Linked DNA regions of Homo sapiens: regions 2, 3 and 4 are each linked to region 1. Evidence: fine-mapped expression QTL. A gene starts in region 1. Each other region holds a variant in brackets. All regions are shown on one strand. Distances are from middle to middle.

The links.
Region 2: its variant is fine-mapped to the expression of ECHDC1 in whole blood (TOPMed, PIP 0.98).
Region 3: its variant is fine-mapped to the expression of ECHDC1 in whole blood (TOPMed, PIP 0.92).
Region 4: its variant is fine-mapped to the expression of ECHDC1 in whole blood (INTERVAL, PIP above 0.99).

Annotation. Positions count from the first base shown.
Region 1 is chr6:127,340,502-127,348,614 of GRCh38, forward strand. ECHDC1 (ethylmalonyl-CoA decarboxylase 1) reads right to left here and starts at 3,108. Exons shown (of 6, transcript NM_001002030.2): 1 at 2,835-3,108. LOC105377994 (a long non-coding RNA gene) reads left to right here. Exons shown (of 4, transcript XR_001744334.2): 4 at 986-1,158. RefSeq lists enhancers at 2,393-3,266, 4,141-5,014.
Region 2 is chr6:127,240,806-127,248,918 of GRCh38, forward strand. No RefSeq gene overlaps it. Among named protein-coding and RNA genes, the nearest start is that of RNF146, 22 kb to the right of the region's middle. The variant T/C (reference allele first, on the strand shown) is at 3,872.
Region 3 is chr6:127,452,951-127,461,063 of GRCh38, forward strand. KIAA0408 reads right to left here and starts at 6,439. Exons shown (of 6, transcript NM_014702.5): 1 at 6,225-6,439; 2 at 897-1,151. The coding sequence starts at 1,031. SOGA3-KIAA0408 (SOGA3-KIAA0408 readthrough) reads right to left here. Exons shown (of 13, transcript NR_174482.1): 8 at 897-1,151. The variant C/T (reference allele first, on the strand shown) is at 4,750.
Region 4 is chr6:127,488,542-127,496,654 of GRCh38, forward strand. The region is part of intron 4 of MTCL3 (MTCL family member 3); the gene reads right to left. All of the region lies in intron 4 of SOGA3-KIAA0408 (SOGA3-KIAA0408 readthrough), which reads right to left. Among named protein-coding and RNA genes, the nearest start is that of MTCL3, 27 kb to the right of the region's middle. The variant A/G (reference allele first, on the strand shown) is at 3,766.

The DNA.
Region 1 (8,113 bases):
AAATAAGCTGTCAAGGTCATGTACCAGTTCAGCTAATAAACCTGGGAGGCCTACATATTCAGAGCCAAACATAGCATGCCTAGGGTCTTGCTTTTGCCTAGAATATGCCGTTAATCAGGTATGAAGATACAACCCAATGAAGCAGATACATGTGGGGCAGAGGCCCCAATTTCCACCTTGATAACTTTAGAATAAAAGTGCTAAAGAAACTTGGTAAGGACTTAGATAGTTGCTTTAAAAGTTTTTTTTTTTTTTGCCTGTCTGCCATAATCCTCTGTTTAGAGGAAGAAACAAGGAGTTAATCTAGAAAATAAGGAGGAGGGACTTATAAAAGCATTAGCATTTTGTGGGAAAGTAGAATCAGTAAACAACATATCTTCTGCTCTCATTGTAAAGGGTCTGTCTGCTCTGTCTTGATACATTACCCCTCTCTCCAACATCAACACTACAGCAATTAGTATGAACGCCATCAGATCTATATCCTTTTATCCTCAAATCTTTAAAACATTAAATATTTAAGTAATAGTAGTATTTTGCCTCATTAGACATCTTTGATCCATCACTGAAATGCCAATTTTTCCAAGAAAATCTTGTAATACTTCATGTATCCTTTCTCTATTAATTCCATATTTTCTATCTTCTCTCATTCTATTCCCTCCCACTACTGTCTCTCCTTTTCTCTCCTCCTCTTATATTCCTTGTCTGTGCCAGAAAAACCTGAGAACACTGCTTAAGCCTGCTAGATTCACTGACCCCAAGTTTAGAAATCCAATTCTAAAAATTTTATAATAGCCTATTATGTACACTTTCGTCCCAGTTCTAAATTCAGAGACTATCTTAGACAAAAGCTCAGTGATGAGATGACAAGGTGTTAGTCATTATTAACCTACTATAGTATCTAATAGTATAAAGTGAACAAAGCTTAAGATTCAGGTTCTGTAGAAGTATGTAGTTAAACGATTGGTTTTTTTTGGATTTCTTCCAGAATCACAGGAAGATGAAAAGGTTCTGAAGCATTTACAATTTTATAAGCTTTCTTCGGGGTAAAACTTATGTTTAAAACTTGCCATGCAGGATGTCTTGCAGCCCCACCACAAAGAAGATTCAGTGGAGCTGAACAAGCTCACTACCAAGCCACTGAAAAGAGGAAAGAAAGTCCATCTGAGATCAAAGGTCGCACTTCCCATTTTTTTCAAGTTCTGCAAAGGTGATCTGTTTCCCTTTAGTGCACAGGAAATAAGTGAGATGTTCTCTAAAAGCCTTTACCTGTTTCACCTTATACTGTAATCACTAAATCCAGAAGACTAACGCAAACTCATACTTAAAAAGAAAACAATTAGCCTAGAGCACGTAATAGAAATCAGAAGCATTTGATTTCAGACTGTCTGTATATCGCCTGTTTGTAAAAGTTCTGATTCGGTTGTAGGCTGTCATAACATAAACTACCTTTCAAGGTTCATTACATGCCACCCACAACTCTCTCCCTCACACAGCCAAAATGCACAACTTTCAGTTCCTGAAATCCTTTTGATTTTTTCGCCATCTCAAGCTTTCGCATATGCGATCTACCTGTTACATTTTTGTCTTCCTCAGAGTAACTTCAAATCATCTCCTCTAACATAGGACTACATAAAGTCCCCTTATTGTCTGCTCTCAGAACATCTGTATCTCTCATCACCACTCTCACTCACTCTTTGCTGTAATTAGTTTTTTAACCAGTTCTTCCCATTAGTCTTAGCTGCAAGAGGGCATTTGCAGTGCCTAAAGATAATATTCTTAAGACTAAACAGGGGCTTAAGAATCTGGCCACAAATCAACTCTCCAACTACCCTGTTTATAATCCTCACAACTCACCCTGTTTCAATGCCATGCTTCTTCACAGGCTGGCTTCCCTTCCTGGAATGTTAATCATTGCAGGAATCCCAGCTGATTATACAGTCGCCTTTCAGGCCAGAACCCAATAAAAAATCAAGAAAGGATCGCCCGTTCTATTACTGCGCTGCTCCCTCCCCTCGTAGATTTCACAAATATACTTCTCACCACAAGCTTGTCTGTTCCAAGAGAATGCTAGCTCTTCTAAAGAAGGAGCCCTTTGTTTTCCTTGCCCTTGTCCAGTTCCTCTGCATACCTCTAGCACCTAGAGCAACAACTGCTATACAGGAGCCCAGATGTGGAACAGAGCAAAGAACTGAGTGTTGATTTAATGTTGCCTGAAGTCCTTAACAGCACCTTCAACCTAAACTTAACTGTGTTTTTAATCCCCTACACGTGTAATCCCTGTATGTGTGCGCAGCGTTAAAAGGATTATTGTAGCTCAAAAATTCTCCAATGAAAGAACCTCTACCAGAAAGGAGTTGCTCATCTTTCGTTCTTGAAAAGTTGGCTGCACGATACAAGTAAGAAAAGTTTTAGTTAGGCAAGACAACTTATACATAAAAGACAATTATAGGGAACATTACCTAACTTAGCACAGGGCCTCGAATGTATTCCGAAATTAAATCAGCATGTAGAAAGCAAGCCTCCTCATGCTTTTTAAAGTGTAATCTCGCGACCTCGCGGCGCGCTCTGGGAAGACCGATTCATCTCTTCCCCTCGCCCTCTTTCCCCGGCCGGCGCACAGCCGGCCCGTGGCGCTCGGCACCGCGTCTCCACGTCCAGCGCGGGGCAGGCCTGCGCGGCGCTTGCAAGGGACAAGCCGCGGAGCCGGGGAGGCTCGCCGTCTGGGACACGTTTGGAGAAGCGAGCGGTACAGTCCATTCCACGGCGACATTTTAGGATTCTCCCACTGACAACACTAAACTGAAGCGCTAAGACCAACCCTTACGACCACTTACCGTCGCAGGCCACGGTGGTGACTTCCTTTTCCGCTCCCCTACACACGCTTTTCCGTTTTGCGTGCCTTTGTTTCCGCTCCCCCCGGGACCATCGTGCGCCCCTGTCCTCCGTTCTTGTAGGTCCTCTCCTCTTCTCCGCGTCTTCTCTTTTACTATCCCACGCTCTCCTTTCCTTTCTCCGGGAACTTTATCCCGTTCCCCTGCCGGTTCCCGTGACCCCGGAAATCCCGCTCCTGCCGCGAGGCGCCCTCCGCTTCGCGCTCCCTCGTGTCACGAGGGAGCCAGGGTGGGCGGTCTCCTATTGTACTTGGCTTTTGAATTTTCGCTTTTGCAGCACAAAGGTAGGGCTGGGAAAGGAGGCTGCCGAACCGTGCTTGTTTTCGCTCAGATAAACGTGAGAAAAAGTGGAGGTGAGGAAGCCAGTGTAGGCAAATAGCGAGAGGGGAGAAGACAGAAAGGTACCGAAGGTCGACCTTTTTTAGGTATCTTATCCAAGTTATTGAGGGGAATGGGTATTTAGCCAGTTTTTTGTTTGTTTGTTTTTATCCGAATATCCAGTGTGTGTCTTGAATGTGTGAATGTGACGTGTTTATAAAGCTCAGTAAGCTTAAAATTCCGTGCCAATACATTTTGTATGCCGCAGACAGGAAGTGCTTTGGAAGACCCTTGAAAGGGGAGGTGATTTTACACCAATATTGAGATCATTTTGTCAGAGTCGTGGGACTAAAGGTAGACCTTAGGTAGTCGATGTCAAAGATAAGCGCAGCTGGACGTTAAAGCGGTGAAAACATTCAGTTAACTACTGACAGGAAAGAGCTGAGCTCTATTTCGATTCGTGCAGAGATCATCTGGGCATTTTTAAAGGGACGTTTTAAAAGGAGAAAGGGGATATGCGGGCGCTCAGTAGAGAAAGTGAACCTACAGAGTTGTTAGTGTAAATGTGATTAGGCCAGCTGTGTGTTTGTGTGTGCGCGCGTTTTAACAGTTACCGCAGGATTCTATCCTCCTACGGAGGATTTTATCCTTCTCGATTACATTTCAAAGGAATGACTCTCTGGTCCTTGAGAGAGAACTTCTGAGTGGCAAGAAATAAGTCTTTACAATTGCAAGCCCTTTAGTAAACGTTCTAAGAAAGGGATGTCAGAGACCTATCATCAGTTGTGTGCTGGTTACATCACGTAGTTAAGCTTTCTGAGGCAGTCGCCCTGGGCACAGGGCCTTATGCTGCTAAAGCTTGCTAGAGTTTGGTCAAGTCTCTGAACGCAGGGGTTTAGATGGGATGGTCATGTTCCTGGAGTTCTGCAGTGGTCATAGGTATGATTTGAATAAGTACAGGGAATATTCTAGTCGGAGGAACAGAATGTGCCAACGCGCCGAACAGGGAGGATAGTTTTACGATACGGAGATGTGTATGATAGGGAATAAGTGGGAGCCCAGTTTGGACTAATTGGAAGAAGTCATTATTAGAAGTACTGTATTTAATTCTAGTTTGTTATAAAATGAGACTCCAAGATCACTGAGCCATTTCACTGAGACTCCAAGATCACCCCAATGCTAGGCTAATCTCCATGGCGCCTAGATCTATGCCCACTCCATTCCCCATGTTGGTCCCCATAGTTTCAGGCACCAGGCTCCAACACCAGGTTGGGCCCTACAGCCCCAGTCTCCAGGTTGGCACCAGTGGATATAGGCTTTAGGTCCACTGACTGCTGGTCCCTACAGCCCCAGGTTCCAGTGAACCCAGGTTCCAGGCCTGCTCCAACAAACCCAAGGTCCAGGTCTACCCCAGTAGACCCTGGCACCAGAACTACCCCAGAGGGCCTAGCCTACAGGCTACCACCCACAAACCCAGCCTCCATGATGGCCTCTGAAGAATCAGGCTTTAGGTCTTCCCCAGCACCAGACTAGACTGCTAGACTGATGTTCCACTTTTGTCCCCATGGACCCAGGCACCAGGCCCATCTGAGAGGTTTCTTCAGTTTTATTTTTCAGTAATAACTTTCATTCTTCTTTCTCAGTGATAACTGTAGTACTCAGTGGGCTTTCTATTTCTGGCTCCCATTTTCCATCTTTCTTTTTAACACTTTGGGAAAATATCCAAGTTAAACTCTATATAGTGGGGTAGGTGGACAATGAAAGATAAGTAAATACATAATATGTATAATCAACGGAGTGAAAAGACAGCCTGCAGAATGGGAGAAAATATTTGCAAACTATATATCTGACAAAGGGTTAATATCCAGAGTATATGAAGAAGTCAACTCAATAGCCAAAAAAAAAAAAAAAAAAATCCAATTTAAAAATGAGCAAAAGGCCTGAATGGACATTTCTCAAAAGAAAACATGATGATGACTAACAAATATATGAAAAAATGCTCAGCCAGGCACAGTGACTCACACCTGTAATCCCACACCTTGGGAGGCCAAGCAGGTGGATTGCTTGAGCCCAGAAGTTCAAGACCAGCCATGGGCAACATGGCAGAACCCTGTCTCTACAAAAAATCACAATTGGCTGGGCAATGTGGCATACACCTATAGTCCTAGCTACTCAGGAGCCTGAGGTGGGAGGATCACTGGAGCCCAGGAGCTTGAGGCTGCAGTGAGCCATGATCACACCACTGCATTCCAGCCAGGGTGACAGAGCAAGACTCTCAAAAACAAATACATACATTTTTAAAAAATTAAAAATAAATAAAAATAATCATAGGGGAAATGCAAATCAAAACCACAATGAGATATCACCTCATACCTGTTAGAATGGCTATTATCAAAAAGACAAAAAATAACATGCCCATGCATATGTGGAGAGAAATACTTATACACTGTTGGTAAGAATGTAAATTACTGGCCAGATGCAGTGGCTCACGCCTGTAATCCCAGCACTTTGGGAGGCTGAGGTGGGCGGATCCCGAGGTCAGGAGGTCAAGACCATCCTGGCCCACATGCTGAAACCCCTTATCTACTAAAAATACAAAAAAATTAGCCAGGCATGGCAGCACATGCCTGTAGTCCCAGCTAAACCTGGGAGGCAGAGGCTGCAGTGAGCCGAGATCACACCACTGCACTCCAGCCTGGGTGACACAGCGAGACTCCGTCTCAAAAAAATAATAAATAAACAAAAGAATTTGAATTACTCTAGCCATTATAGAAAACAGTATAGAGGTTCCTCAAAAAATTAAAAACAAAACTGCCATATGATCCCACAATCCCACGCCTGGGTATATATCTGAAGGAAGTAAAATCAGTATGTTGCAGAGATATCTGCACTCTCATGTTTATTGCAGCACTGTTCATAAGAGCCGAGATATGGAATCAACCTAAGTGTCCATCAGTGGATGAGCGGATAAAGAAAATGTGGTATATACATACAATGGAATACTATTCAGCCATTAAAAGGAATGAAATCCTGTCATTTGTGGCAACATAGATGGACCTGGAGAACATTAAGTGAAATAAGCCAGGCACAGAAAGACAAATATCACATGATCTCATGCAGGTGTAGAATCCAAAGAAGTTGATCTCATAGAAGTGGGAAATAAAATGGTGGTTATCAGAGGCTGAGAAGAGATTAATCAGTGGGTACAAAGTTACAGTTAGGAGGAATAAATTCTGGCGGTCTATTGCACAGTAGGATGACTGTGGTTAACAACATTGTTTCAAAATGGCTAGAAAAGATTTTGGTTGTTCTCACTACAAAGAAATGGTAAATACATGAGGTGATGGTTTTGCTAAATAACATTAAAATATCACCATATCCCATAAATAAGTAAAATTGTTATGTGTCAAAAATGAAACAAAAATATATAATGTTGGGGGGTATTAAGTGCTATGATGACAAGTAAAGCAAGTTTGGCATAATTTTGGGAGTTGGCATATTAGGTTAAGGTAAAGCCAGTTACTTTTGTTATGTTTATGAATTCCTAGGCCTCTTGACAAACACTGAGGTTCTCAAACATTGGCAAACACAAGTCACATTAGGTAAACATACAAATTCTTGGCCTTAGTTCCATATATTTTATTCTGAACAAATAGCCCTTAAGTCAAAATTGAGAAACAATGATTAGTAATAAGTTTTTACACTTCAAGTATTTCCTCATTCTGAACAAAGGATGTCGACATGTATTTACACACTTGAATGTTTCAACACTACCGTGTGATGTGATTTTACTTTTTTTTTTTTATATATTTCAGCTTTGAGTATCATGTATTCTATTTTCAATCTGTTGTTTGTGGCCTAGACTCAATGCAATAAGTTTTTAAGGGGTTTTCTCTCTGAAGCACAAAATACCTTTTTACTCTAAAAAGCGGGGATGGGAAGAAGATAAACCAGACTCAGATATTATGATTTTCTTCACTTGTCCCTGGTATGAGTTTTATGAAAACATTTGTAACCCAATCACAGCTATCTTTCCCCTGAAACAACACGTGCTTTAGACTGAATTGGTTATAGTTCTAGGTATGAGAAAGAAATATCAAAATGTTATACCACAATGTATATCATTTATTGTTGCATTATATTCTATCATGATAATTTTTATTAATGTAAGCTTATTGAGTTCAAATGCCTTGTTAGCCTTATTTTTCCTCCTTCCCATCCTTTCTTTTTTTCCTCCTCGGTTCTTTCCTCTCTTTATTTCTTTTGAGAATGTAGTTAAATTTTTTTCTTAAAAAATGCCATAGAAAAAAATACTAGAATGAATATCTCATGCTGTTAATAGTTATCAGTAGTAACTTGGGGGAATGTAGTGTTTGTTTTGTTAGTTAAATATACTTGGTTTTCAGATTTCTCAAAATGAATGAGAACACTTAATAACATGGTAAAATGTTGAAACTATAGTATTACTTTCAAAAAGGCTATCTAGAATGGAAGAAGGGTGATGTCAGAAAGATGGCAGTATAGCACTTCCCAGTACTTGTCCCTTCACAGAAACATCTATTTGAACCACTATCCTTTTTTTTTTTTGAGACAGAGTCTTGCTCTTGTTGCCCAGGCTGGAGTGCAATGGCGCAATCTTGGCTCACTGCAACCTCCGCCTCCTGGGTTCAAGCAACTCTGCCTCAGCCTCTTGAGTAGCTGGAATCACAGGCACACGCTACCACGCCGGCCAATTTTTGTACTTTTAGTAGAAACGGGGTTTTGTCATGTTGGCCAAGCTTGTCTTGAACTCCTGGCCTCAGGTGATCCACGTGCCTCAGCCTCCCAAAGTGCTGGGATTACAAGCGTGAGCCACCACGCCCGGCCTGAACCACTATCCTTTTATGAAGACACCTTCACATGAA
Region 2 (8,113 bases), 100 kb before region 1:
CATCGTATATCACTGGATTATCTAATCTTTCTATTTCCATTCTCGACCCTATTTTCAATCTCTTGCTCATCAATGCCAAACAGATTATTATTTATCACTATCTTCACCATAATACTATCCTGTTCAAAACTGATAGTTTTCTAATGCTTACATAATTAAATCAAAACTTTAAAAAATTTGAGTTGCCTTAAAACCTCTACCACAAAACAAATGTTATCTACTAGTAGTATTACATTCTGCCCACATTTCAAAACCCTACAGAATGTGTTTCTAACTTATTTCTGCTAGTAGTGACGGCCACAGATTTAATGGTATTAAACTAAAATATGGTTAGCTCCCTATTTTTAAACATCTACTCATCAGTATTTGAATGCTGCTTTAAGGGATAATTCTTCTGCTTTTTGATCTATCATTTATTGAATGTTCATTATTTGCCAATTGCTGTACTACATAATACATATATAACATATATGCATATTACATATATTATAATATGCATCTGTAATATATATTTGTAATATGTAGTATATGTCATATGTAATATATATAACACTATATATTACATATGTATATTATATTACACATATAATATAGGTTATATATGTGTTAAAGTACTTTACATATAATAAAATGTTAATTTTAATACAACACTGTATAGTAGATTCTATATCCATCTCCATTTTATGGTTGAGAAAATAGACAATTAAAGACATACACCAATATACACTGTAAATATATCACGGGACTTAAGATGTGTATATGGTTTCTCTGTTTCCAGAGTTGATCATCTTAACCAGCATGGGCAATGTAAATAGAATATGTAAGTGGGTAATGTAGAAAATATAAAGGACGCAACTTTTATTTATTTATAGAATCATATTCTATAAATAAATTCTATTATAATTCAAGCAACAAAAAGTAAGTAGAAAAAGGGTGATGTATGTGATAAAGAGTAAAAGCTCCAATGACTACTTAATAGTCATGTAACTTTACATACCATTGCATCTCTTACATACCACACCACTTTTTTCTAACTTTTAAGTTTAGGGGTACATATGCAGGTTTGTTATATAGGTAGACTTGTGTCATGGGGGTTTGCTGTACAGATTATTTCATCACCCAGGTACTAAGTGTAGTATCCGTTAGCTATTTTTCCTGATCCTCTCCATTCTCCCAACCCTCTGATTGGCCCCTGTGTCTGTTATTCCCCTCTATGTGTAATGTGTTCTCATCATTTAGGTCCCTCTTATAAGTGACAACATGTGGTATTTGGTTTTCTGTTCCTGCATTAGTTTGCTAAGGACAATGACTTACAGATGCATCCATGTTCCAGCAAAGGACATAATCTCATTCTTTTTTTATGGTTGCATAGTATTTCATGGTATTCTACTTTTTAACTAATATATCTAACTACCATTTATATAAATACTGTTTATTTAAGTACCATTAAATATATAATGCAAAAAATAGTTAAAATTAAATAATAAATTTTTAGAAGTACAAAAGGAGTAAATAAATGCACCATGTCATTCTTAAGTCATAAATGGTCAATTAGATCAAACATTATGAGTATAGGGTGTACCTGAATAATTTTATAAATAAGATTCATTTAATAGCTATGTATTGACTAAATTCTGCAGAAATTACACTGCCTTTTCAAGCATCTTTGTAATATGAAAAAAAATTTTGAATGCAGGATTTTGCATTAGCAAAACCTTAACAGAATGAAAAAATTGGTACAGAATAGACATAGATATAATGTGACACTAAGCAAATGATATTCAAAACATATGCCCCTCCTTAAAAAATTATTTATAGAGAAATCAATAGTCTTAAGTGTCTTTATTAAATTAAATACAAGGCTGGGTGTGGTGGCTCATGCCTGTAATCCCAGCACTTTGGGCAGCTGAGGTGGGCAGATCATTTGAGGTCAGGAGTTTCAGACCAGCCTGACTAACATGGCAAAATCCCGTCTCTACTAAAAATATAAAAATTAGCCAGGTGTGGTGGCATGTGCCTGTAATCCCAGCTACTCAGGAGGTTGAGGCAGGAGAATCGCTTGAACCTGGGAGGCAGAGGTTGCAGTAAGCCGAGATCGTGCCACTGCACTTTACCCCAGGTGACAGAGCAAGACTCCATCTCAAAAATAAATAAATAAGTAAATATTATATACAAAGTAACAAGGAAATAAGGGTTTACATCTAAGAAATTAGAAAAAATGAATAGCAAATGAAAAATAAGAAAGATGCTGAGCATTAAGGCATAGGGAAAATAAGAAAATAAATAAAAAGAAAAATAAGAAAGATACAGATGAAAGGAATTAAGAAAGCTAAAAGTTGGAATTTTTATCTCAGTAAAAAGATGAAATGGCAGAATTGGAAAGCATGAGAAGAGCATGAGCAAATAAAGCCAGCAGAGCTGGTACAGGTGCTTCTCTCTGACTATAAACATAGAAAATTGTGGAAGAAATAATTTTTTAAATGGCTTAATACAACTCTTAACTTGAAAGACTCTAGGAACCATAAATGAAGTGAAACAATGATAGAGAAGGAAGATGAATCTAATATCCCAGCCCATGGAGTATTCAACCAGGTATTTCAGTAAGGCCTGTTATTCTAAGGCAAACAAGCTGACTGAAGTATGACAAGGTGTCTAAACAGTGAAAAAATCTTCACACACTTCTCTCAGAATATGAGAGTCAAAGCAGGTAAATTTTTTAAGGATAAGAAGTTTTGAGCAACAAAATTTATAATTTAGAGAACAATTAGGGAATGCAGATTCTTTCTGAGCTCAAATGAGACATTTTTTAAAGCTGACCAGTTTCTAAGCCACAAAGTAGTCTCAACGAATGCCAAAAAACTGATAAGGTATATACCACATTTTATAACTACTTGGCTCTAAAACAAAAGTACTAATGAAAAGATAGCCTTAAAAAACAAGCAAACCAACATCTTAGTGGAAAACATCTGGGCATTTAAAAGAGCAAAGTTCTGGACAGGCCATGAGTCAAAGAAGAAATCATAATGGACAGTGGTTATTATTAAACATTAAGTCATGAATTACAATTAAACTCCCATATAGCAAAACTTGTGCACTGTAATTAAGGCAGTTTTTAGAGAAAAATGTAGTCTTAAAATGCATGTATTACAAAATAAGAAAAACTAAGAATTAATGAATAAATAATCCACCCAATGACTAAAAATAATAATAGGGTAAATCCTAGAAATAGAGCAAATAGAATAATAAAACTAAAATCAATTATCAATTAATATTAAAAACAAAGATACAAAACACAGAATAAAATAAACCAAAAATTGTTTTTGAAAAAACTAATATAATAGAAAAATCTATAACAAGTTTGATGAGAAAGAGAGAGAGAGAGGAAGACAAGCAAGAAGAAGGGAAGGACAGAAGTAGACAGCAGTAGAGTTGTGCTGGTAAACCTTCTCTCTCTAGGGTGGGGAATAGGTTCCTATTTATAGGGGTCTCTGATTTCCATAGTGTAGATCCTGCCACAAATGCTGATTTTAATCTACCAACATGATGCCACTGAATGCAAACTGGGGAGAGATTCATAGACACATGGCTCTGGGCAGCCAGAACAAGTCAGCTCCAGCACACCACTGGAAAGGTCACAAAGAAATAAAATTAGGGTGGAAAAACAGGAGCTAATGGAATAAAAATTTAAAATATTATAAGAATATTCAGAATAACTCCGTCAATATAAATGAAAACTTGGACAAAATGGACAATTTCTTAGAGAAATGTAACTTACCAAAATAGATTCCAATGGAAACCTGACAAAAACAAAATTACAGCTAGATAAGAAGAATAAGTTTTAGTGTCCTGTAGCACTGTAGAATGACTATAG[T/C]TAAGAATAATATATTATATAGTTTCAAATAGCTAGGAGGAGGATATTGAATGTTTTCAACACAAAGAAATGATAAATGTTTAAGATGATGGATAGGCTAATTACCTTGATCTGGTCACAATTTATTATATGTATCACAACATTGCTATGTACCCATAAATATGTACAATTATTACATACTGGCACATAAACATGTGCCATTTTAAAAAACTTTTTTAAAAACCAGATCATTAAGATGGTGAATTAATAGCTTAAATAGTGAAGATAGTGAATTAACAGTTTAAAATACACCAATTACTTAACAAAACAAGCAAAATAAATGGGCCCATCAGATTTTTAAAATGAGCGTTACCTAATTTTATTTTATTTTAATTAATTAATTTATTTATTTTTGAGAAGGAATCTTGCTCTGTCACCCAGACTGGAGTGTAGTGGTGCACTCTCAGCTCACTGCAACCTCCGCCTCCTGGGTTCAAGCGAATCTCCTGCCTCAGCCTCCAGAGTAGCTGGGACTACAGCTGCACACCACCACACCCAGCTAATTTGTTGTTCTCTTTTTGTACTGGAATTACTGTTTGAAATAAAAGATCAACCCCAAATTATACAAACAATTTAAGAGGATATAACAAGAAGAAATTTCCCTGTAGTGATCTCATTTTGTCAGGCCAAGATAGCCTTTACCCCAGAATCAGACATAAATACTATGAGAAAGGAAAATTTTAAGTCGGTGTCACATAGGCCTCTAAATAAAATCAGCAAATGGAACCCTTCAATGTTTGTCCATATGTCTCCATCTGAGTATACCATAACTAAGTTGGAAACATCCATATCAAAAGTTTTTTTGTATCGGTAAATCTATTACTGTAATTTCCACATTAACAAATTAAAAGAGAAAAATGATATGATGTCTATAGGTACAGAAAGCATTTTTGATAAGTTTCAATAATCATTCATGATGATAACAATAATTGTAAACTCTTAGCAAACTAGAAACAGAAAAGTATTAGCCTGACCAAAACTATATATTAAAACTTTTAATAAATATAATATCTTTAAGGAAATTATAAATGTTCCTTTTAAGTTAAGAATAAGACAAGATGTCTGCCATTACCACTTGTATTCAGCATTGTACTAAAGGTTGTAATCTGTATAGTAAAATAATAAAAAGAGACAAAATGAATATAGAATAGAAAGGAAGAAATATAAACTTATTATTTTTAAGTTATATTATTGTGAATACAAAACTTTTAAAGACCTAATGAACAAATTAATTAAGTACAATAAAGTTGCTATGAGACCACTATAAAAAATGAATAGGGTTCCTTTGCAATAGCAATAGATCCCATTCACAATAATTTTAGAAATGTTAAGTCACTTCGGAATAAATCTAAAAAAATAAGCAAGATATACAATCCAAATTATTTAGTGATATAAGCCCTAAATAAATAGAGAGTACATCATGTTTGTGGAAAGGATGACTCAATATTTGAAAGCTGTTATTTCTTCCTAAATTAGAGTTGCCATGTTTGGCAAATAAAAATACAGAAAAGCTAGTTAACTTTTGAGTTCAAATACATGAATAATAATTTTTCAATATAAGTATGTCCCAAACATTATTGCATACTGTTGAATAAAAAATTATTGCATAGGATAAACAGGCAGATAAATAGACAGATAGATAGATAGATACATACATACATATATACATAGATACTTATAGACACGTAGATAGATAATAGATTGAGATGGAGATAGTTATATATAAATATACAGATATACAGTCATGTGTCACACAACAACAAGGATACATGCTGAGAAATGCATCATTAGGTGATTACATCATCTTGTGAACATCATACATGAACCTAGATGGTATAGCCTACTACACACGTAGGCCATGTAGCGTAACTTTTTGCTTCTAAGCTACAAGTCTGCACAGCATGTCACTGTATTAAATATTGCAGGCAATTGTAACACAATGGTATGTATTTGTGTCTCTAAGCATAGAAAAGATGCAGTAAAAATACAGTATTATAATCTTATGGGACTGTTCTTGTGTATGCAATATGTCATTGACTGAAATGTCATTATGTGGCACAGGAGTGTATATAAAATATGTTTACTTGTATTTCAAATTTAACTGGGCATCCTGTATTTTATTGGGCAACTCTAAGCTAAATTAATCTATCAATTCAGTACAATCCCAACATAATTTTTTGTAGAATTTAAAAATAATTCTAAAACTCACATGGAAGAGTAAGGCATGTAACATATAAATACGAAAATTGCTTTTCCAAGAATAATGGGTAGTTTTTTGCCTTAGACCTGTATGTTTAAAGAGACACTTCTAGGAAGTCTAACCCCAAACACAGGAGTATCTTTCTCAAAGATAAATTCAATATTTCACCCCGGACTCAGAAACCTTAGCTCTGTTTATAACTGCATTGGCCTATTGATTCCTTCCAGGTTGCAACAAGAGGGGAAAGGAGAACCACCATGTCACTGGTTCTTTCTTTAATTCATATTCTCTTCTCTTTCTCTCAAAGAATCAGAGTGCTTCCAAGTTGATGCAATAAAATACAAATATAAAACTACTCATTATAATTGAAAATGAGTCATGGCAATCATTTGACCTCAATAACCACATTTCAGGTGTGATCCTGTCCTATTCCCTACCCTGCTATTAGATGCAGCATCTCATGAGAAAAGTAGACCAGATAGACAGTTGATATTGGTAAGAAGGTAGAATTATTTTACAGCTCTATCCTGGTAGATAGGTGAAACCTAGTAACAGGAAATTTGGGAAAATAATATGCTTACCTAAATGTGCAATCATGGGTAGAACTTGTATCAGTTAGGATTCCTTAGGTGCAAGAAACAGAAATCAGCTCGGCCTATCAAGCACATAGGAATGCATAAGAGGATTGGAGAATATAGGACACCTTTACACAGTCTTAGGATCAGTCCTGAAGAAGTCATGAGCCAAAGTATCTCTGGGGAGAGGAGAAACTAATGGACAGTCACGGCCAGCTGGGATTAATCATCACAAACTGCTTTCTCCATCTTTTTCTGCATTTCACATGAGCTCCAAATTTCAAGGAGAGAAAAGCATCTGATGGTATCACTTGGGTCACATGTCTATCCCTTGGCTAGGAGAAATGGGGACATCTTGATCGGCAGTTCTATGGCTGCCAATAGTGAAGGAGTAGCTTTTCCAATATAAGTTCAGGGCATCATTTCAAAAGAAAGGGAAATGAATTTTTGGCAGGCATAAACAACAGATGTCCACTGCATGACTGAATAACACAGATTTTGGGAAATGCATCCATGTAGAGCAATGTTATGATTACCAGTTGAACCTTGGTACAGAACCCCTCATTTTGACAAAAGAAACGATTCTCTCAAGATGAATCATTCTGGGAAGTGGTTAATAGTAGATTAAGAAATGAGGTGGGCCTTTATCTGGGGGAGGAGGGGTCTTTCTTCACTCTCTGGGGCTGGAGGCATTGTGCTGAAACCAAGATGTTATTCTAAAGCTGCCCCTGACCACGGTGGCTGCTGAGTACCTCTGTTTACTGTGCAAGTAGCAACAACAACAACCATGAAGAAGGATAAGCTACTTTTTGGAGCTTCCAATATCCATGACAGTGTTTGTGGAATCCTCCCATGTCGAGAAAAGGTACCTCTGAGTGAGTGGTGGATAACTGGTACATGCTGCTCCCCACACTCCAAAAAAGAAAAAAAAAAACGACACTGCCCTCCCCATCAAAAAACAAAACAAAAAATAGTCATTTGCACTGCAGGAGAAAGTTTTTGTTGCCCAAGATCAAGATGAGGTTTCACTACTGGTGAGCAGGGGAGAATCTGGCCAGCAGAGTAAACTTCAAGAGAATCAGCAGCAACAGTAACATAGTATAGATGCAAGATGAGAGTGCTAGAGTGAAAGAAAGCACTTCTTCCAGAGCAACTTCTAAACTCTACATATTCAGTGAAAATCCATTTAACCATTCTTGTATAATAAGGTAATACAAAACCTTATTACATACAAAAACACTAAGAGGAAAACAGAAATACATATATGTGTGTGTTTGTGTGTATATATATATAAATAAATAATAGTACAAGGGTGGTGGCCAGTTTTCAGTCTTTTGTTCATGTATATACATATATACATATATACACACATATATGTACACACACATATATATAAAGTTTTAAATCATGTTTTATTATATGTAATAG
Region 3 (8,113 bases), 110 kb after region 1:
TCCTACTATGCCAATTCATATTTTATTCACAGTCAATTACATGGCTGTTAATAAGAAACATGACTGTACTATAAACACATAAAGCACTTACTTTGCCTGCAAAAAAGGCCAAGAAGTCTTAAAATAACAACTTTGGTAATGTGCATAAAACCATATAAAGTCAATACTAAGGATGTTACCAAAAGAAAGCAAGATAAGCATAAATTATTTCCAATTGGTGCAAAAGCTTGAATATACATCAATGCAAATGCTTGAAGGAAATATTTCAGGGTCAACGGACTGAGGGAGGGTTAACGGGAACAAAATGACTGTGTCAGAGTCGTGATATGTCATTTTTCATAACTCCTTTTCCAATAAATATGCCACTAAATGTGCACACCTTGATAGAATAAATCTCATGTCTACTGCCATTTTCTGTTTGATATATGATACTCCTTTTGATTATACTGCATTATCTAACATGTAATTTCCTTTAATAGACATTACTCATAAATCTTCTTAGGAAAGATCTATGTTCTAATGCCCAACTATAATTTTGCTAATCTATGTCCCACCAAGTATATCTTTCTTGCATTTTACTCCTGGACCTGGTATTTGAAAATTCATGCAAAATACATACCTCACTTTTGATAAAAAAGCTCTCTAGCCAGAAAATAATAAGTTGAAACATTATAGAGTGACATTTCAAATGCTTAATTTTCATGCAATGATATAAAATAATCCTTACAATACCATTGGATAAGATTATGCTATTTTTGTTCTAGTAAATGTCACTGAGAAATGTACCTCTTAGGTCGAATAAGGAAATCAAAAACAGTTTCCAATACAAAACAGCCCACAGAATTTTCATCCTGCACTTAAACATTACAGTATATCCAAAACAAATTAAAGTGTACCTCTTCTATTTTCTTCTGCATAATCTTCCATTGACTTTCCCATTCCTTTCTTTCATTGTCAAACTGGTCCAGTAATTCCATCTTTTCCTTATGCCAGTTAGTCTCTGTGTTCTCCCACTGCTTATGTAGGTCCATGGCAACAGTGTAAGTGTCAGCAAAGAAGTGTTTCTGCTCTTCTCTGCCTCCTCTTAACTGTTTCTTGGAAGCTTGAAGTTGTTTTATTTGAAGCAGTCTCACTTGCCTTTAAAATAAAGCCTAATATAAACATAACAAGAGAGAGTTCCAAATCCATGTGCTTTCTGGAAATATATTTTATCATTTTGTCGAGCCATTGACATAAACAAACTATAGGAAAATTGGACTCAAAAGAAAAGAGATGACAACAGTCTACTTAAGAAGAAGAAACTAACACAGTCAATAAAGTAATAAGTATTGTCCAAAGTTTTTTTCCCTTTCTGAGACCAGACAGCAAAATTATAGTGGACAAGATGATTAAATGCGCATGTGAGATGTAATCATCCCTTTAACCACTTACTCTAAAAATAGATTTTTTCATGAATAAGAGTGTAAGTATACAATTCAAATGTATGCTCACATCTACACACTGTGACAGATTCTGCTGCAATAAAATTATTCTTTCTGTTCTGATGCAACCTGATTATATATTCTTATGACTTAAATTCCTGAAACAGAGCTGGTTTGCAGTCTTAATTCTATATTCAGAGATCAAGCCTGTGCCAAATGTCATTACTGTGTTACTTATGAAGACCCCAAAGTTGGTAGTCAACTTAGGACTGATGTATCATCCAGAAACTAATCTAAATTATAAAAAATATATTCATTATGTCACTTCATCAAGGAAAATCTAGAAGCATCAAAACTATCCTGTGAAATATACGTTAAAATTTATCCATGCTCTCTTTTCCTTTGAATAGGCTATATACCATAAACTGCTTAGGATATTGAATACAGGGAACTGAAGAAAACATTTTGCTCAGTTTTCAGGGAATCCTCTATTACATTAAGTAGTGACTGAAATAATTAACTTTCTAGCCTTCAGGGACGTGTACTTAAGGTTTGAAGTCAGAATTTAAAATACCAGCTATGTAACTGGTATAAGTCTAAAATTTCTGGGATTTAGTTTTTTGCATTAAAATGGGGATAGTCATAGAACTGTTAAAAAGATTAAATGGCATACTGAATGCAAAGTAGTTTGAGAAATTTAAGAAAGTTTTCTATTTTTTGCTTTACAAAATTTCATTGTGACTTCAATTAAAAATAATTTTGTATTAAATAAGTCATGTGCCTTTTTAGGGGGTAGAAAAGCATGTTTAAAATGTTTGAATCTCTGTTTAAGATAATTATGCCTATAAGATGTCTAACTCTTCAGTCACTAAGCCATTATCAAAATGCTATAACTTACTGGTGGCAGCTAATGCTAATTACGGACAAAGATCCCAACAGTCAATAGCTTTGTGGGTGCTGGCACTGCCGAATTAAGGCCACATACCCAAGCAGCAAGTGCCAATTTTGTATTCACAGAAGATAACTGCATATTTCAAATCCTAAATATCAGCTAAATATCGAACACTAATTTTATTTTTGTCAGACTGTTGTGAACATACATATCTGACTAGTAAACAGTTTTGAATCTGTATTTTTTGAGTCACGATCAATGAATTAGAATAGAATAAGAAATGAAAAATGTTAGCTATATATGCAGGGTTCTACCTTCAAAACACCCTAATAATTTTGGGATCTATATTGTTACTTTACTCTCAAACTATTTACTAAAGATATTTTGATAATTTTTTCCTATGTCTTTGGCACTAGCACTATTATGATTAATTCAGTCACGAAAAATACATAATTTCATATCTGGCTATTAAAGGTGCTATCATATCTCATTTTATCCATTTGGCCATGCTCAATTTCTGACCTCATTTCTCCACCTCCTCTGTCACCCCTTTCTTTGCTATCTTTCCCACATATAAACCAGTAACCACAAGTACTTGCCATAATAAATGTCAGTGAAGAACAAATAAAATAAAGATGGTAAAGAACATACAGAGTTTTGGTTTTTGTTTGTTTTGGCTAATCTAATTTCCATTGATCTTGATCTTGAATACCTAGTAATCTTTTAGGTTCGTCTAACAATTCTTCATAGGAAATGCAGACAGTGCCTGTCTTGAAACTAGCAGACTGCTTTAAAACTATACGTAATTAACTGTGTGGTGAAACTACCTTGCTGACTAGAAAGTATTTGCCACTGGAACTTCTTAGGAAGAATGGTGTGGTTTGAGATAATAAGAGATAAATGCAGATTTAACCAAAGAAACTAAAAAAGGATGCAGACTAATTTCAAGCTACCTGGAAAAGAGGAGCTATGATAAATCCATGTTTTATCCCAACTGTCTTTAAACATTGGAAATGTTCAGAAATCACCATAAAGTCTTTTCTACAATTATGTAGCAAATGGCTCCAATTTTTCCTTCTATTCCTAACTCTTCTTGAATCGCTTCCATGCTACTGTTGAAAGATGCCAGGCCTTTCTCTTTTTAACCTACCGGAAGATCATTCAGGAATACCCTAGATCAGTCTTGCTCTTGATAACAAGACTATATCTAAACCCAGGTAACAGTCCTGAAGCAGACCGAATCCTGCACCTATTTGCAAAGAGCCAAACTCATCCCTTAATATGGAGAAGGACCAATGTATGGAGCTTTTCCTTTCCAGGCCCAGAGCAATTGCTAGTGCCAAGAAATGTAATAGTTATGGATCAGAAACAAGCCTTTGCAAGAACATTTCTATAGAGCAATATCTGTGCCAATTTTTTGTGGAAGGATTTGGCCTTCTTAGCATCTCAGTCTTGTCGTAAATATAATGTTAGATGTAACGCAGCCAAACATATTGCTTCCACCTCTAAATATAAAGTGGTGGGGGGGGGGCATAGAATTGTTTTGGAGATTAAGTGAGCAAAAGGGAAAAATGCTTAAAAGAAGTGCCTAAACACTGCTCTGGATCATAGCAAATGCCTGAAAAATACTTGGTTCTTGTTTTCTTCCTTCTGTCCTTTGTTCCCTCCCTTCCTCTTCTTGTCTTTCCTCCCTCCTTCCCTTTCTCCTCTCTTTCTCCATCTATCCCTCTCCATGTTGTTCTCTGGAAAAAAAACAGATTATTTTGGTCTTTATTTTAAAACGAGATAGAAGCAAGTGTAATTGTGTGAACTCTCATATTCTCCATGATCTTCTTTTGCCTTTTTTCAAATATTTTAAAGATACATGTCACATATTTAAAGAAAAAAGTTTTATTGTTAATAAAAATGTGAACAAATCTTATGTAAAACTGCTTTTGTTATAAATCTGACTTAAATATTACAAAAAATATCAAACTGAAGGGGCAACTTTGTAGAGATAGAATGTTTCGTAATGAGAAGTTATGGGGTAAAGTGGTTCAGCAGATTCAAAAACTCAATTTAAGTGCTCTCTACTGGGGCAAAAATAAAAGTTCTTTTTGTTCCTAGTTGTCACTCATTTTCTCCCACAGATACTGGCATCTATGTGGGAGAGAAGGAAGGATTTCTGCTATCTGCATCCCCTACCCCATATCTCTTTGGCTCTCCAGTTTATGTTCTTCCTTCTAGAATTCCATTTCAGAATAAAAATTTATTAGAGCAAATGTAAGAGGACAGAGTGAGCTGCATTACTTAGTCACACACCCCAACTCTAAACCAGCATTGCATAATCCCTTTTAACTTACTTCCCCTTTCCAGGGCTGAAAGCCAGAATTATAAAGAGTTGTGAGTGGGTTGCATAAGTATGGTGATGGGAGGCAAATAGTTCTGCTAGCCTTC[C/T]GGCCCTACCAGTAAGCAAAGTTTAAGAGTAACACACAAGTCTCACAAGAAATTATTTTCACCCCCAAATTAGCCTCAGTTTGGTCATGGCAGCAATTCTTTCTCTGAGGGGTGCTCCATTCTTAGGACACCTGGGTCACTACCCTTTCAACCTCCAACTCGCCCATTGAAAACTGGACTGCATCCAAACAAACTAAACAGCGTTCCTTAGGGGCAGCTGCTCCATTGCTACTTCTCTCTTTTTAGATTATTGTTTAGAGTACTTGTTTCTTGCTGTCCTTATTTCCTTTTGCTAAACATATCACTTTTCACATAATTAAAGATTTTTCATTTATAAGAGGTTACATATTCCAATAGAAATGCCACACACAGTAGGTACTGCTAATCTCACAATTCCTAGAAGACTCATTTGGCCTGAAGATGTTTTGCTTCTGCTTAACTTTGATGGATTAGGAATTCCCCAGCTTATAACCTATCAGAGTAATGTACCATTTACCTCCTAAATTCTCTATCCCTTTCTCCAGGCTATTATAATCACTTGAATTATTTCAATGAATTAATAAATCTCATTCCTCTCTATTGTTCACTTGCAATTGAATCTTTCCAAAGACCACCATGATTTGATTTTGTTAGAGTAAAAGGGAAATTTTTTTCATTGCTGTGTATTGCTGATTTAGCACATTCCTCATGCTCCAACAAGGTCAAAGAGACACTACCACATGCAATTCCGAATGAATCAACTTTACCGTTTCATTTAATTATCTTCTTCCTTGTTTTCTTTACAGTTATTTACTCAAATTAGAAAACATCCAAGCTGTATGCACACTGATTTTACTTATAAAATGCAAACTTTAAAAGCAAACATTTGGTTTGAGTAAACAAATGTCTAAAACTAACCATCGTGAACAAAAGACATAGTGGTAAGTTTCCCTCCTAAACGTAGATTATTCAATTATGAATGGCATAGACTTCAGCTCAAATTACAGAAACACTAACTCTACAGTGAGTCCACCACCACCTTAGATAAAACTAAAATTTATTTTTCACCGCAATTTTCAAATACCAAGTCTCCAGGATTGTGACCTTTAATTTGCAAATGTTAAAAGTCTTTATATGAATAAAAAAAATCACATTTGAATAAATATACTTAGTGAAAATCAATGATGGGCAAAGTGCTTTTCAAACAACTGAGAAGCAGTGTTGGAAAAACAGTCTCAAAGAGCGGATGGTACTGTCAGTCCACAGTTGGGAAATCCACCCTGAGCAGCTGAACAGCCTTTTTCCTAGGAGTCAGTACAATCTGTTATGCACCCCGCCCACTGTTTTTAAGCCCAGACACAGACAACAGCAGAGACAGATGTTGAAATTACACTCCACTTAAACAGTATCCATAGTTTAAAACATCTCAACAGCAGCCCCTTTGTATCCTGCCATAATTAGTCACTTGCTTGTAAACTTGCCGGAAAGAAACATACCTTTCACACTGGGGAGAAATCCTATGGATGCTCGACCACTGGTCAATTAGCAGTGGAAGAAAGTGGATGGCTAGCTGTCTTAAAGAGAAAAGTCTCAGCTCGGTGAATCTCGATTCTTTACAAGAAAAGGGGATGCAAAATAAGTCCAACCATTCCACAGAGCAGTACTGACAAGTCCCTTTGAAACCTTCACCACTTTTACAAGTCAAAAAGCTGCTCAGCTTAGTGTCACAGCAGCAGCTGAGACTACTGTGACGTCAGTTACTTGGAGGCGGCCTTCAAGCCACCTCTTCCAACCAGAGCTCTGTAACTTTAGAGCAGCTCATGCTCTGGGTAAACAACTCCAGGTCCAGGACATTTTTAGCTTTTATAATGGAGCCCAGTATTTTCAAACTTGCCAAAAGAGCTGGTTGTTAACATCATACAATGACAATGGCCAATTTTAGATTTATTTTATTAGGAAAGTAAACTCATTTTTTTATAGGCAAGAATTATCTCCCTCCTTCCATAATTCTTTCTCCTTCTCAGCTGGTGGCAGGATGTACTCTGCTGCACCTTTAGAAGTTTGCATCTGGATGTGGCAGAACAATATGTGTAGCATAATTATATATATTATGCACTCTCAAAAGATCTGTGAAAGTTATCAAACTTCTATCTTCAAATAAAATAGAAATGGAACATAAAGTCCAACCTCTTAGCTCTCTGTGATTCTGACAGTGTGTTGCTTTTATCTACAGTAGTAGCGATGTCTTTACGTTAGAGAAAATCAGAGCCCATGGGAAAGGATGAGATTTCTTATTGTGGGAGGACAAAACACACACACACACACACCCCAAAAATGAGATACCTATGGGCTTATTTTCCACTAAAGTGTGCTGCAGCCATAGGAAGAGAAAGCAGCCTAAGTGTATGGAAAAGCTCTCTAAATCATGATCAAATCAGCCTGTTCTGAAATGCTAGGAGATCTTGCCTCCCCAGCGACATTTTCAGGTTTATTGTGGCTTTGTACACACATGCATCTGATGATATTTGGTTTAATTTAGTCAAAAAAGTCTCTAGAGCAATTTTTTGCCTAACTTAGCAAATACACAAGTTTAAACAATAAGGTCTTATCTTCAAGTCTGAAGAGCTTCCCTGGTGTGGTCTTTAAAGTAATACATATTCACTCACATTATTTTCACCTGCTTCCAGATAAACATTTCATGAGGAGCTAAAGTTTAGTAATAGTAACCTGCTCACAGTAGGACTTTAATACATGTAGGACAATCAAATGAAACCATACTCTGTGTCTGGAAAGCCTGACATCATAATCTCAACAGCAATAACAACAATAACAGTGATAGTTATAGTAATAATAGTGATTATTCACTGAGGGGCAACCCTCTGCAAGGTTCTGTGCTAAGTACTTTGAACAGACCTTTATCTGAGTTCACCCTCAGAGCAATTCTGTCTCTAGATACTGATAATCTGATCTTACTGATAAAACCCAAGCAAGGCTCATTGTGGTAAAGCATCATGCAAAAGTTCATAGAAATGCACCCATGTGGAGGAAACGGGTTTGAACTGTTTTGTCTGATTGCAAACCATGGAATTTTGTCATAGAGATCTAAGTTTCAATTCTGCTGCCACCACTTATCTGTGTGATCTTGCAGACCCTGATTCTTCCTTAAAGACATAATTATATTTACTTTAAGAGGCCATAAGAATATGAGGGAATATATATAGCGCCAAGCACACAATAAAGGGTAGCTCATGTCTGCCTCCATGCTTATGAGGCTAGGAAGAAGATTCTTTGAGAGAGGGAAAGGGAGGAGGGAGTTGCACAAAAACATCAATACAGAATTGTCTTAACATTGTTTCTGGCCGGGTGTGGTTGCTCACACCTGTAA
Region 4 (8,113 bases), 150 kb after region 1:
CTTTATTTCTTACCTAGATTTGTTTTGGAAGCGTTACTAAAAGTCAATAAATGATAACAGGTAAACAAAAGCCCATTTGAAAAGGTCTACTTTAAAAGTAGACCTTTAAAAAGCTGGAATATAAAATGGAAAGAAGCTGGAAAAATAAAAATGTCTTAGGCTTTTCAACAAAAAGACTAAAGAGTCAAAATTGTATGAGCTGAAAAGTATTTAAAACAGGACATATCACATATAGCTGGCCCTCTGTATCTACAGGTTTCACATCTGTGGATTCAACCAACCACAGATTGAATTTTTTTTAAGTACAACAATAAAAAATAATGCAAACTTAAAAATGATACAGTAAAAACCACTATTCACATAACATTTACATTGTATTATGTATCATAAGTAATCTAGAGTTGATATAAAGCACAGGCATACCTTGATTTATTGAGCTTCACTGTATTGTACTTCACAGATACCACAATTTTTACAAATTTAAGATTTGTGGAAACTCTGCATTGAGCAGGTCTATTCGTGCAATTTTTCTAAAAGCATGTGCTCATTTTGTGTCTCTGTGTTACATTTTGGTAATTCTCCCATTATCTCAGACTTTCTCATTATTATTATATCCATTATGATAATCTGGGATGAATGATCTTTGATGTTACTCTTTCAATTGTTTTGGGGCACGATTAACTTCACTGATATAAATTGGCTAACTTAAATGTGGTGTGTGTTCTATCTGCTCCACCAACTGGCTGTTCTCCCATCTCTCTCCCTCTCAGGCCTATTCCCTGAGACACAACAGTATTGAAATAGGCCAATTAATAACCCTACAATGGCCTCTAAGTTTTCAAGTGAAAAGAAGAGTCATATGTCTCTCACTTTAAATCAAAAGCTAGAAATAATTAAGCTTGGTGACGTAGGCATGTCCAAAGCCAAGATAAACCAAAAGCTAGGCCTCTTGTGACAAACACCTAGGCCTCTTAGCCAAGTTGTGAATGCAAAGTAAAAGTTCTAGAAATAAATTAAAAGTGCCACTCTAGTGAACACACAAATAATAAGAAAGCAAAACAGCCTTATTGCTGATATGCAAAAAGTTTTAGTGGTCTGGATAAAAGATCAAACAACCCACAACATCCCCTTAAGCCAAAGCTTAACCCAGGGCAAGGCCCTTACTCTTCAATTCTATGAAAGTGAAGGAAGAGAGGTGAGGAAGCTGCAGAAGAAATGTTAGAAGCTAGTGGGCATTGGTACATGAGGTTTAAGGAAAGAAGCCATCTCCATAGCACAAAAGGGCAAGGTTCAGCAGCAAGTGCTGATGTAGAAGCTGCAGCATGCTATTGGGAAGATCTAGGTAAGATGATTGGTGAAGGTGGCTACACTAAATAATAGACTTTCAATGTAGATAAAACAGCCTTCTATTGGAAGAAGATGCCATCTAGAACTTTCATAGCTAAAAAGGAGAAGTCAATGCCTAGCTTCAAAGCTTCAAAGACAGGCTTTCTTGTTGGGTGCCAAAATAGCTGATAATTTTAAGTTGAAACCAATGCTCATTTACCATTCTGAAAATCCTAGGGTCATTAAGAATTATGCTAAACCTATTCTGCCTCTGTTCTATAAATGAAAGGACAAAGCCTTTATGACAGCATCTCAATTTACAGCACAGTTTACCAAATATTTTAAGCCCACTTTTGAGACCTACTGCTCAGAAGAAAGGATCCCTTTCAAAAGATTACTGCTCGTTGATAATGCACTTGGTCAAACAGGAGCTCTGATGGAGATGTGCAAGGAGACTAATGTTCTTTTCATGCCTGCTAACACAAAATCCATTCTGCAGCCCATAGATCATGGAGTAACTTTAACTTTCAAGTCTTATTATTTTAAAAATGTACTTTATAAGGCTATAGCTGCCAGGTAGTGATTCTTATGATGAATCTGGACAAAGTAAATTGAAAATCTTCTGGAAAGAAATGGCATTCTAGATGCCATTAAGAATATTCATGATTGGGCCAGGCGCAGTGGCTCACGCCTGTAATCCAAGCACTTTGGGAGCCTTAGGCAGGTGGATCATGAGGTCAAGAGATTGAGACAATCCTGGCCAACACGGTGAAACTCCGTCTCTACTAAAAATACAAAAATTAGCCTAGTGTAGTGATGCGTGCCTGTAGTCCCAGCTACTCGGGAGGCTAAGGCAGAAGAATTGCTAGAACCCGGGATGCAGAGGTTGCAGTGAGCTGAGATCGCACCATTACACTCCAGCCTGGGGGACAGAGCAAGACTCCATCTCAAACAAACAAACAAACAAACAAAAACACACACAAAAAAGAATATTCATGATTGATTGGAGACGGTCAAAACATTAACAGGAGTTTGGAAGAAGTTGATTCCAACCCTCAGGGATGAGTTGAGGGGTTCAAGACATCAGTTGAGGAAATAAATGTGGTGACAATAGCAAGAGAACTAGAAGTATAGCCTGATTGTGATTGACTTGCTGAAAGCTCCTGATACAACTTTAATGGATGAGGAGTTGTTTCTTATAGATGAGCAAAGGAAGTGATTTCTTGAAATGAACTGTATTCCTTGTGAAGATGATATGAACTTTGCTGAAATGACAACAAAAAGTTTAGAATATTCCATAAACTTCCTTCATAAAACAGTGGCAAGTTTTGCAAGAATTTATTCCAATATTTTAAGAGATTCTACTGTGGGTAAAATGCTGTCAAACAGCATTGCCTGCTACAGGGCAGTCTTTCATAAAAGGAAGAGCCAACTGACGTGGCAAATCACATTGTTGCCTTATTTTAGGGAATTGTCATAGCCACTCCAACTTTTGGCAACCACCACCCTGATCAGTCAGCAGCCATCAACATCCAGGGAAGACCCGCCATCCAACTAGATGATGACTTGTTGAAGGCTAAGATGATCCTTAGGATGTTTTAGCAATAAAGTATTTTAAAATTAAGGTATATACTTTTTTTAGATACCATGTTATTGCACACTTAACAGACTACAGTATAGTATAAACATAACTTTTACATGTACTGGGAAACCAAACAATAGTGTGACTTGCTTTACTGCTGTGGTCTAAAACAGAACCTGCAATATCTCTGAGGTAGGCCTATAAATGGGAATATGTGAGTAGACCAGCCTGGGCAATATGGTGAGACTTTATCTCTACAAAAATTTTTTAAAAGTTAGCCAGGCATGGTGGCATGCAGCTAGTCCTAGCTACTTAGGAAGCTGAGCCAGGAGGATAGCTTGAGCCCAGGAGTTCGAGGCTGCAGTAAACTATAAACCCACCACTATACTCCAACCTAGGTGACCCTAGACTCCAGCAAGACCCTGTCTCAAAAAAAAAAAAAAAAAAAAAAAAGATGGACTCTACTTCCGTACCTCTTCTAACTGAACTGGCCTTGTGACTTGCTTTGACCTGTAAAATCTGTTGGCAGAAATGGCGTGCTGGTTCTGAGTCTACCCTTGAGAGATTGTACAATTCTGCTCACTCTCTCTTGGAAATCTGCTACCCTGTGTTTTAAGTCTGGGCTGGCCTGCTCCATGAAAAGTCATGTGGCCCAGATGCTCCTATTGCCCTAGTGAACAGCCAGTTAATCCTCAATGCAGAGCCTTCTAGCTGTTATCTGACCATAAATACATGCATGGACCTACCTGAGACCAGAATGGACCACAGAATTATGAGCCACATAAATGTTGTTTTAAGCCACAAAGTTTTGGGATGGTTTGCTACACAGCAAAAATCCACTGACACATCTACCAAAC[A/G]TTCTTCACCCCGGGATTAAAAAATACACTAGGCTAATAAATTTAGTTCAGATTTATAAACAATATCCTGTATTCAAATTCCATAAAAGCGAAAAAAAAAGAATGTAAAAGGCTAAGAGGAAGAGTTGAGAAGGTTATCAAACACAAGAAAAATAAAGCTTAATGTATTTTCCTTGTTTTTATTTCTCCCCTGCCTTTGCCACTATTTTGATTCCAGAAATTTTTTATTTTTAAGACGGAGTCTCACCCTGTCGCCCAGGCTGGAGTGCAGTGGCCCGATCTCGGCTCACTGCAAGCTCTGCCTCCTGGGTTCACGATGTTCTCCTGCCTCAGCCTCCCTAGTAACTGGGACTACAGGCGCCCGCCACCACACCCGGCTAATTTTTTGTATTTTTTTAGCAGAGGCAGGGTTTCACCGTGTTAGCCAGGGTGGTCTCAATCTCATGACCTCGTGATCCACTCGCCTCGGCCTCCCAAAGCGCTGGGATTACAGGCCTGAGTCACCAGGCCCAGCCCCCAGAAAAATTTTTTAATGAAACTGAGCTTAAATAAATTATTTTTAAAGTTCACTTTTCCAGTTCTAAATTGCAGATGCTGCCCTTACTAATAGCAGGTGTTCAATTAGCACCAAAGGTATATAGGAGTTAAAAGCTAATAAATTTCATCCTAACATTTAAGCTTATTATATATGAAGTGTTTCTTCTATTTGAACTTAGCTTTTATTCTTCATTTTTAGGAAGAAGTGATATATACATCTTCACAATGCCTTTATCTATGCCTCTGATTTATATTTGTTCATCCCACCCTTAGTTTTAGCAAACTTTGTTTATCATTCTGTTTCTATAGTTTTCCTAGGCAAGAGAAGAACAATAACTTTAAATATTCCAAAATTTCCTACTTATGTAAATTTACAGAGTTGAAGCACAAATACAAAGTGAACTATACCCAGAAAATTATCAATTTTAATTTAAGGATTCGATTTTCCAAACTTACAGTGATAGTTTAAAAAGCCAGACTTTAGAAAAGAATAGAGAAGGGAAGAAAAGAAGCATTATTAATTCATTGATTCTAATAAATAATGTTGGAAGATATGGGAAGGAAAGTTGATTGGCAATTTAAATCTGGAAATTGTTTCCAGAAGGTAATAATAAATTTTAAAAGTCCTGGATTTTTCACTTTGACTCCCTTCTAAAGATGGTCATAGAGGCACATGTCAGAGGTGAGGAGGTATATCTGGCATACAGATGTTTATGTCATGAAGGCAGAGACCTGAATTTGCCAATAAATCAGCCAGCCCTCTTCTGCTAGACAGCTAAACCCTTTCTCCATCCCATAAGGCCAGGTACCGTTCCTATCTTTTGAGTTATGAGGCTGCCAAACTTATTTCATCCTATCTCCAGTGAATGCCTAAATAAAAGCAAATTTTAAAAGCTGAGAAAACTATTTTTCTGCTCTAAAAACTGATACAATGCCAAACTAAAATAGCTGTGATCATGGTATTATTTTGTTTTATTTTTTTAAATTAAAGAATCCAATAAATTTTCCTTTTCCTAGTTCCTCTATTCTTTTCCCATGTGATAAAGTAGATACCTACAGCAGAGCTCAGATTGACGACAGAGTTATGTGAATTCTTTATCGTTAAGGAATATTAATGAGTCAATTTGTAGAGCATACCCTTGAACCAGGCTACCAATAAAAGAGGAAACTTTTAAGTCTTTTTTGGTGTGGGAATCAGAATTATCTTCACAGGGCCAAATAGGTTTGCATGGCCCTTCAGTTGTACAGTGTCTTTTTAAGCCATTCTTTGGTGCCAGGAATTACTTTAGAACATATCTGCCCTTTTCCTAGTGTATTATTTGGTAATAAAGCTTAAATGTCTTTAAATTGGAACCCATGCTTTGTAACTATTAGTGGCATTAAACTTAAAATGGCAAAACTGCAATTACTTTTGCACCAATTTAAGTGTACAGTGAAATTTAGGTACATCAGAAACTTAGAAAGTAAGATGCTGAACTTAACTCTAGAAAATATAAGAGAGCTTAAAAACCATAGGATATCAGAAAGAAGAAAAAAAAATAGAGGCTTCTCTTGTTAATGGGATGTGGTTACAACAGAACTGGAGGAAATAGCACTGACAAAAAACTGTAACAGTTGAGGCCTACAAGATCCTTGTGAAAACATCCCCTTTAAAAGTCAGGTTAGAACTCCATATGGGCTGCCTTGCATTATGTAGTTCATATCATATGATCAAAATATTTCCTGGATCCTTAGGAAGAATTGGCCTCTGTATTTTCTAAGCTTCTCTGGGATTCATCAAGGGACTCAAGGCTACCAGTGAAGTAGTTTATGATACAATTAACTCTTTCATCATTGTAGAACCTTCTTTTGGAGCAGGGTATGGGTTATTAGAGGGTCTGTCAAACTGCCAATAATAAACTGATCACAAAGCAAGACCACCTTGCTTTAAAAAATCAAAGCCAACATGGTAAGTGCTTCTTTAATATATCATGTATTATACTTGGTTGGCACCATGCAAAAGCCTCAGAGAACTCCACCCAAGCAAATGGATTTAAGACTGGGATATTTCTCAGCTTAGAGTTTTAAAAAATCTGAGAACCTGGTGGCTCACACCTGTAATCCCAGCACTTTGGGAGGCCGAGTCGGGCAGACCACGAGGTCAGGAGATCAAGACCATCCTGGCTAACATGGTGAGACCCCGTCTCTACTAAAAATACAAAAAAGTAGCCGGGCATGGTGGTGGACACCTATAGTCCCAGCTACTAGGAAGGCGGAGGCAGGAGAATGTCATGAACCTAGGAGGCGGAGCTTGCAGTGAGCCAAGATCAAGCCCCTGCACTCCAGCCTGGGCGACAGAGCATGACTCCATCTCAAAAAAAAAAAAAAAATTATTTTATATCTTAGATCCACAGTAAAGATATGTTTATTAAACTATGGATGACAACAACAAATGCAGAGATGTATTCTAATTTACTCTTGTTAATGGATTGGGTTCTAACCATCATTGCATTGAGTAATTAAAAGACACTTAGAAAATTATGTCTGGGTGGTGACCAGAGTTCCTTAAGGCCTTTGTTTATAATTCAGGCAAAGAAAAAAAACTGTGGCCAACATTTATAAGGTGAAAGGATGAGCTGTCCAGTCTATTCTACACTGCATCTCAACCAGCTTCGAACTCATTAATGCAGTGAAATTAGCAACATTGTTCTATCAGGATTAGAATCTTGTAAGAAATATGCTTGAATGTGCCATTACAAGATGGCAGGACACTAAGGGGTGGGCATTACATGAGTGTTTTAAAATTATTCTTTACACAATTACATATTTAAGATATTTCATAATACAAATTTAAAGGTCAGAGTATTCATTAATTTCCAAAATGCACTGAAAGGATATAGAAGCACTTTTCTGAGGGTAATTCCTGGACTGGGTTAAATGTGATAGCCCACAATTACACTTTAAAATTTTTGGAATTAGTTACCAAATTTAAAAATGTAAACCATTTACATTTGAAAAATCCAAATTTCCAGTTTCACTTGAAACACTTGAAGAACGGGTAAAGTTGGGTCTAGATTATGGCATGGCAACGCTGGGTTAAATTGAATATTAAGACATACACTCTCGGCTGGGCATGGTGGCTCACGCCTGTAATCCTACCATTTTGGGAGGCTGAGGCGGGTGGACTGCCTGAGCTCAGGAGTTTGAGACCAGCCTGGACAACATGGTGAAACCCCATCTCTACTAAAATACAAAAAACTAGCTGGGGGAAATAAATGCATGTACACAAGAGCATGAGATACCACTGCCACAGGAATAAAATATTCCACATATTAATGAAGTTAAGGAAAGTAATCAAAGATGAACCAGACTTATTTCCTAAAGTAATATTTTTTAAAGAAAATTTACCCTGTTCATATTGTTACTCAAATTGACAGAATTCTGAGTTAATATAGTATAAAGCTATCATTTACTTCTGATTAAAATATATCTGAAGGCCAAGACAAAAACGTAAACACAGTAATATCAAAAACTAACATGGTAGTCAAGCATTAACCAGAATCTGAGAAAATTTTTTTTTAAAAATAACATCAGTGAAATTCAAACAAGAAATATAAGCTATCGAATGTATGGCCTTCAATGTGTGAAACAGAAGGATTTGACATGCAGACCAATGAAAACTAGAAATCCTGTTTCTTAAAAGGCTAAATGTAAATTTGCCATATGACCCAGCCATTCCAATCTTAGGTACATACTCAAGAGAAATAAAAACATATATCCACCAAGGACTTTCACAGTAATATTCCTAGCAGCATTGTTCATAATAACCAAA